2 linked regions of the Homo sapiens genome follow. The protein of the gene in region 1 interacts with the protein of each later gene in a pairwise test. Each region holds a gene or a part of one and is shown in the gene's direction. Other genes may lie near its edges.

What was found.
Region 2: the proteins of ASRGL1 (region 1) and MAP2K5 interact in a two-hybrid assay, tested with the Homo sapiens proteins (one large-scale study listed by BioGRID and IntAct).

Annotation. Positions count from the first base shown.
Region 1 is NC_000011.10:62,389,201-62,391,759, forward strand, and holds part of ASRGL1 (isoaspartyl peptidase/L-asparaginase), read left to right. Parts: coding exon 1-51; intron 52-2,299; coding exon of another isoform or gene 2,300-2,321; coding exon 2,322-2,432; exon of another isoform or gene 2,433-2,433; intron 2,434-2,559. UniProt on the Homo sapiens protein: Has both L-asparaginase and beta-aspartyl peptidase activity. May be involved in the production of L-aspartate, which can act as an excitatory neurotransmitter in some brain regions. Is highly active with L-Asp beta-methyl ester.
Region 2 is NC_000015.10:67,583,876-67,587,702, forward strand, and holds part of MAP2K5 (dual specificity mitogen-activated protein kinase kinase 5), read left to right. Parts: intron 1-2,014; coding exon 2,015-2,055; intron 2,056-2,970; coding exon 2,971-3,038; intron 3,039-3,827. UniProt on the Homo sapiens protein: Acts as a scaffold for the formation of a ternary MAP3K2/MAP3K3-MAP3K5-MAPK7 signaling complex.

The DNA of each region.
Region 1 (2,559 bases):
GCGGTATCGTTAATAAAATGGTCGGCCGCGTTGGGGACTCACCGTGTCTAGGTAGGACCAAGGGATGCCTCCTGCCCCTTCCCCTCTTCTCCCGCCCTCAGGCTTTCCTCACTCTCTATTCCCTGCCCCTCTCCGTTTCTTGCTGCGTTCCCTTTCTGCTTTTGGTGCAGCTCCAGGATGTCTGGGAGTGACAATGGGGTTGGAAGGGGTTGTTCGGGGTGCTGCCTTGAGAGGGTGTTTGTATCTGGCGCCACTGTTTTTACTAGATTGCATGCCTTTTTGGAACAACTTGGGGAGAGAAGTGGAGACAGGGATGCTAACGTTGCCCCCAGTCTACCCTGTCGTGATTCTGTCTTCTCTTTAGCCACAGTTTCAGGATCTGCAGACTTACTTGAGTAAGACTTACTCCCGAGACATGGGCTCTGATTAGCAATCTGAGAAATCTGAGACTGCAGTTGTTAGATCTGAGCAGCATGAAAGTGACATACTTCTACAGACACATTATAGATTGAGATGTTGTTTACATTAACGGGGAAGCACGCCATCTCATTCCCAGGAGTGGGTGAGAGGCAGGGCTGGGGGGCTGTATGTTTCACTCCGTGCAGACTTTCACACTTGTCATGCAGGAATCCTCATGAACCCCCACAGGTGACTGAAGTTTTGAGAAGCAGCTAAATTGTTCCATCTGCCCTAAAGAGCAGCTTATTCTTTTAGAGGAAAACTAGCCCTACCTTCCCTTTTTAATGTGTTGCTCTAGTCTTTAGTAATAATCTACACTCTCGACAATTCTTGATACCCTTTTTCTGTCATGAACTCAGAGACACTGGAAGCTTCCTTAAAAAGAGTAGAGGCTTGGTAACTCCTCTTCTCCTTGGTATATCACCCAAGAGATGTGAAGTAGTCTACCTTTCTTTCTCCTTGGCAAAAATCCCACCAAACTGTGCCTGGTCAGTAGTGCAGCTTGCTTCAGCTGCGTTCAGACCAGGCCACAGGGCCACTCCAGGTTAGATCCTAGAAATTAATTTTAAGCTTGAGTTACAGTGGTAAATCTTGACAAGAAAAGGCATAAGCTAAATTCTCAGAACTCTCTGTCCAGCTGTGAGCACCAGGTGTGCTCTGCCTGGCCTTCTGAGGAGCCTCCCCAAGGAGCACTGCCACTGGCCAGGCCCCTGCCTGGACAGTCATGGGGGACGGTACTAGGCTCAGCAGTGGTCACCTCAGGCAATGCACTTGTCCTGAGAAGTGCATGTGGCGGGGAGGACAGCTTCACACGCCCGATGCCTGTGCCAGGACCACCCTTGGAGACACCTGGCCTTCTGTGGTCCTAGAGTAACTGAAAAGTAAGCAAAGACTTGGCTGCTTCCAAATATTAGGGCACTTTGACACCATGGAACCCGGTCAGTTAATTCCCCAGCAGAAGCTTATAAGAAAAAGTAAAGGCGCCTCCTCCCACTGCAGCAGTTCATTGGCTGTCCAGTGTCAGCTCCCTCCAGAACCAGAGCCAGGGATTATCTGCCTTTGAGAACCTCTGGGGCCTTGTGACAATCCAATGCAGCATCTCAACTCCTGAGTCCTTGCCCCATGTCCAGCATCAATAAGTAAGGCAAATGTCAATCTTCTGTGCTTCTGTATCAACTGTGGGAGGGTAAAGGCGAATCCTTCCAAGGCTAAAGGACTCTGAGGCTGGTAGCTGTGTGTGAACAGATACAAGAATGACTCAGAGAAGGCTGTAAGGTTGCTTAATCCAAGCCCAAAATAAGGAAGAAATCTTATCAAAGTAGCTTTCACTCCAGACCCCCACTTAAGTGGATAGCCCAGAATAGTTCCCTCAGGTCCAATTATGCCCACCCTCAACAAATATAACTGCCCTCCATTAGACAGTGTGCATGGATGTTAGGTTGTGGGTATCATTTTCCCCAAATCACTGGAACATGATGGCCTTGCTAGAGATCCATATAATGCAGTCATGCTGTTTCTTCCTCCATAGTGTGTGGGGCATGAGGAGGAGACAGGGAGAGGGTGGCTTCATTGAGCAAAAAGGAATGGCTGTGCTTTGGGGCCAAGGAGATGCTGTCCTGCTGTAGCTGCTCTGTGAAAGGTCAGGCCTGCCCCTCTGAGGCTCCCTTTATCCTCCTAAATTCTGGGGCATCTACATGACGCTTTCTAGTCCACCTTTGCCTCCGCAGATCATGGCTACTAACCTGACCTTTGTCGGTACTTGAGCACCCTTCGCGATTTAACTTTCATGTAGCGTCCGACTTCTAATATGGATTTGAATTTCTTGACTGTTACTGCTCAGAACAATCACCCTTTTTGAGCAGGAGCTGGAGGTTATGCCGACAATGACATCGGAGCCGTCTCAACCACAGGGCATGGGGAAAGCATCCTGAAGGTGAACCTGGCTAGACTCACCCTGTTCCACATAGAACAAGGTACACAGACCACAGGACAAGTAAAATAATTTGTGAAGATAAGTGCATAGAAGGTATTTGATAAGTAAGCGCATGGAGAAGTGTAGGAAACCCTTTCCTGTTGGCTACAGATGTTGCTTTCAGGCCG
Region 2 (3,827 bases), on another chromosome or scaffold:
AGCTGGGGCTACAGGCATGTGCCACCACGCTGGGCATTTTTTTTTAATTTTTTAATAGCGACAAGGTATCACAGTGTTGCCCAGGCTGGTGTCAAACTCCTGAGCTCAAGCAATCCTCCCACCACCACTTCTCCAAGTGCTGGGATGAAAGGCATGAGCCACCATGCCTGGCCATAATTCTGATGTAATAACATGTTCTCCTCATTCCAAGTAGCACAGTTGCCTTGGATAGTAACTCCCAGGTCATGGCTAAGTCCTCTACATTGTTAAAAGATATGTTAAATATTAATAAGTGTGAACATTGACTAGCTTTATAGTAATTCCTGACCCGATAACTTTAGGAAATATGAGGTTACTGGGTTTTTTGACTGCTGTTTACATCTCCAGTTATAAAAGTTTGAGAAGTCAATTGAGGAGTGAGGCAGATGTTAAGGTTAGAGATAAGAGTTGATGTTTGTCTCTGATTCCTTGGCTAGCCACTTTGTTTAAATGAAATTTATGAATGCACTGCTTACTTCAGTGGAAATATTTTGAAGTGTTGTCTTAGGAAGTATTGATGGTCCCTCAAGGACCAGACGTCAAATGCATGTGACTGTAGTTCAAAAGGTTAATTTCCATTTTAAGGAAAGAAGATTTTGAGTCTTAATTTTAATGCATTTTAGAAAGGCAAGTAAAAACATTTTGTTATGGTTTAGATATATTTTCTAGGAAAAATAACATAATAAATTTGAGTATATTTGGAATATACAAAATGAAAGCAACTGCAGTGTTTTGTAATTATTACCCATATCTTCTCCTTTTTTTTTTTTTTTTTTTTTTTTGACACAGAGTCTCGCTCTGTCGCCCAGGCTGGAGTGCAGTGGCGTGATCTCAGCTCACTGCAAGCTCTGCCTCCTGGGTTCACAACATTCTCCTGCCTCACGACATTCTCCTGCCTCAGCCTCCCGAGTAGCTGGGACTACAGGCGCCCGCCACCATGCCCAGCTAATTTTTTGTATTTTAGGTAGAGACAGCGTTTCACCATATTGGCCAGGTTGGTCTTGATCTCTTGACCTCATGATCAGCCCACCTCAGCCTCCCAAAGTGCTGGGATTACAGGCTTGAGCCACTGCACCCAGTCATTACCCACATCTTATTATTAAACAGCTCTATTTCTTGTTGTCAGAAACAGGAAAACGACATGTACATCTGAGAGAGGAGCAAAAAAAAAAAAAAAAAAATCAAATTAATTCGTCCCCAAACAATCAATCAAAATTGATGGCCCCTTAACATACAATTTGTAGGGCACTATAGTTTTCAAATAGAAGCAGTCTATAACATGGGCAGGAGGCTTTTGTATTTTTAACATTTGTTGAAGAAGCATTTGCTGAATTGGAAAAGTACTAACCTGTAACTCAAGATGGTGTCAGGAAATTAATATTCTTTTTTCCTGGCACTGCCTTATCTCTAGGACTAAATCTTAGCATATGTCAAGATTTGCAAGAAATGTAATAAAATTAGTTATATATCTGTATTTTAATACATTTGACTGCTTATGGCTGTGCAAAGTAGTATTCAAACTAGAATGTTCCATCGTAGAATCCCTAGCAATCTTTTTGGCATTAAAACATCCTTTTCTCACCCCGCTTGCTCACAAAAAAATCCCTTAGCTCTTTTCAAAGTAGTTTAAGTGATAGCAGATATACAATGTAATAGAATGAGGACAGATTGCAGAAATTTGAATTATGAAAGGAATCTAATCATTTTAGCTCAGTTAACTTGATTTTTATATGTTTTAAGCAGAAATTGGAATTTATATGAGGTGGTGTCAGAAAGCTCTTTGCATTTATAAATGCTCACTCCTGCAAGTTAAAACCCTGGTTCATAATTCCCACTTTGGGTCTTGGGAGCCACTTTTCAATCATTTCTCTCTGCTAATTTTGGTGTCACCCTCATTTCTTTTTAAACGATTCATTTTGAGCAAATTTGTAAATGGCCCTGATGTGTTCTACAATTTAGTCAATTACTGTTTCAGCCTGCAAGCCTCCTGGGGAACGGAACATACATGGCCTGAAGGTACGAATTTCAATAATTGTTTCAGTAAAGTTAGATGGATTTGTAATGCTGTGTTCCACTTATTGAAATGTCAAATAAAACTGCACTTTCTCAAGCTCTGACAAGCGATCCTTTTATTTTTTTTAAATGGGAGGTGGAGGGGGATTCATCTGTAGTATTTGCTCAGTATGTGTATATATTTGCATACTGGGGGTTTGGTACTGTATTTTCAATTATTTGGAATTGTTTTGTTGGTCAGTGTCTTCAGGATAATCCTAGGTGCTGGTATCTACAAAGATTTTAGTAAGAATATAGACTTCATTTCAGTGATTAATTAAGCACATAAGCATATTGCACATGGAATACCCTCTCTTGACATATTTATGCTAGAAACATATATCTAGTTAATGTCTTTTCATTCTGTGTATTTTGAATTCTGGATTTCTGTTTAGGGCTTCACATCTGAAAGAAAAGCTGGCTTTTGTATTAGGCTCAAATATTTCATAATTAATTATTTGGACCTCATTTTTTAGTGAATAAGAAACATTCTACATACAGTGTTCTGCTTGGTTGCAGAGCTGGAAGGATATAACTTGAGGTTCACTACTAACCCCTGGGTATATTCTTAATGTACTTTTTGAACATACTGTTTTTATATGTATTCTAGACAGTGAGTTGGATTTTCACACTGTTTATGTCTCCTTTTTCATCACTGTTTAAGTATTTAATGGAATAATGACAGGAATAGAATATTATGTAATGTATGGGTTATACGGTTTTGTAACCTATATACTGAATAGACTCCAACTGTGGGTTTGTCTAGCAACAAGCTAATTAACCTTCATAGTGAAATGAGAAATTTGTGGCAAATTATAGGTTAATTAGAACTGTGTCCTCAGAACACAAGACTGATCAAGATTCTTTCTTTACTTATAGGTGAATACTCGGGCCGGACCCTCTCAACACAGCAGCCCAGCAGTCTCAGATTCACTTCCAAGCAATAGGTGCGAGCGAGCAAGTAAAGTGTGCCCTTGATGTGATTTATCTACAGAGTTGGGGTGGGGTGGGGAAGAAGCTAGAAAGAAATTTGACCAGTTAGATAACCTAGCTACGTATTGACCAAAGAGAAAGGACCTCATATGGAAAGATGAATGTTTAGATTTAGACTGGGTGCTGAGAAGGCTCTCTGGGGAGAGTGACGTTTCTGTTTTGACCTGAAGAAGCAGAGAAGGGCGTTTCAGACGGAGGGAAGAGGGTAGGTGAAGGCCCTGAGGTGGAGAAGGAGCTCAGCATGTTTGTGAGTAGGCCAGTTTGGCACAGGGAGGGGTGCTGGGTTGGGGAAGGGATTTGGAGAGAGGAGATGAGAGAGCAATAGGAGTGATAGGAGCTAAGGAGGTAGACAGGACTTATCATGCGGGGCCTCGTAGGCCCTGTAATGTTTGAATTTTCCTTTTGGTGCACTGGCTAGCAGTTAGAGGGCTTTTAGTAGGAGAGGGACATGGCCAGCCCTGTGTTTTTAAAAGATCCTCTGCCTGTGGTGTGGCGAATGAGCAGAAGCTCCCATCTAATCCTGCCCTCCTTTAATGTTTGACTTCCTACTCCTTGCCAAATGGTCATCAAATCTCTTACTGAACATCCCTGTCGGAGGAATGCACTTTATCAGCCAACGCAGCTCCTTCCCTTTTTTACTTGGCTACATCTCAGAAGGCTCTTTTTTGTGAGCTGAGATTTGTCTTTCTATAGCGCCCACTCATAACGTTTTAGTTAAGCCCTCAGAACGTGGTTGTTCCCTC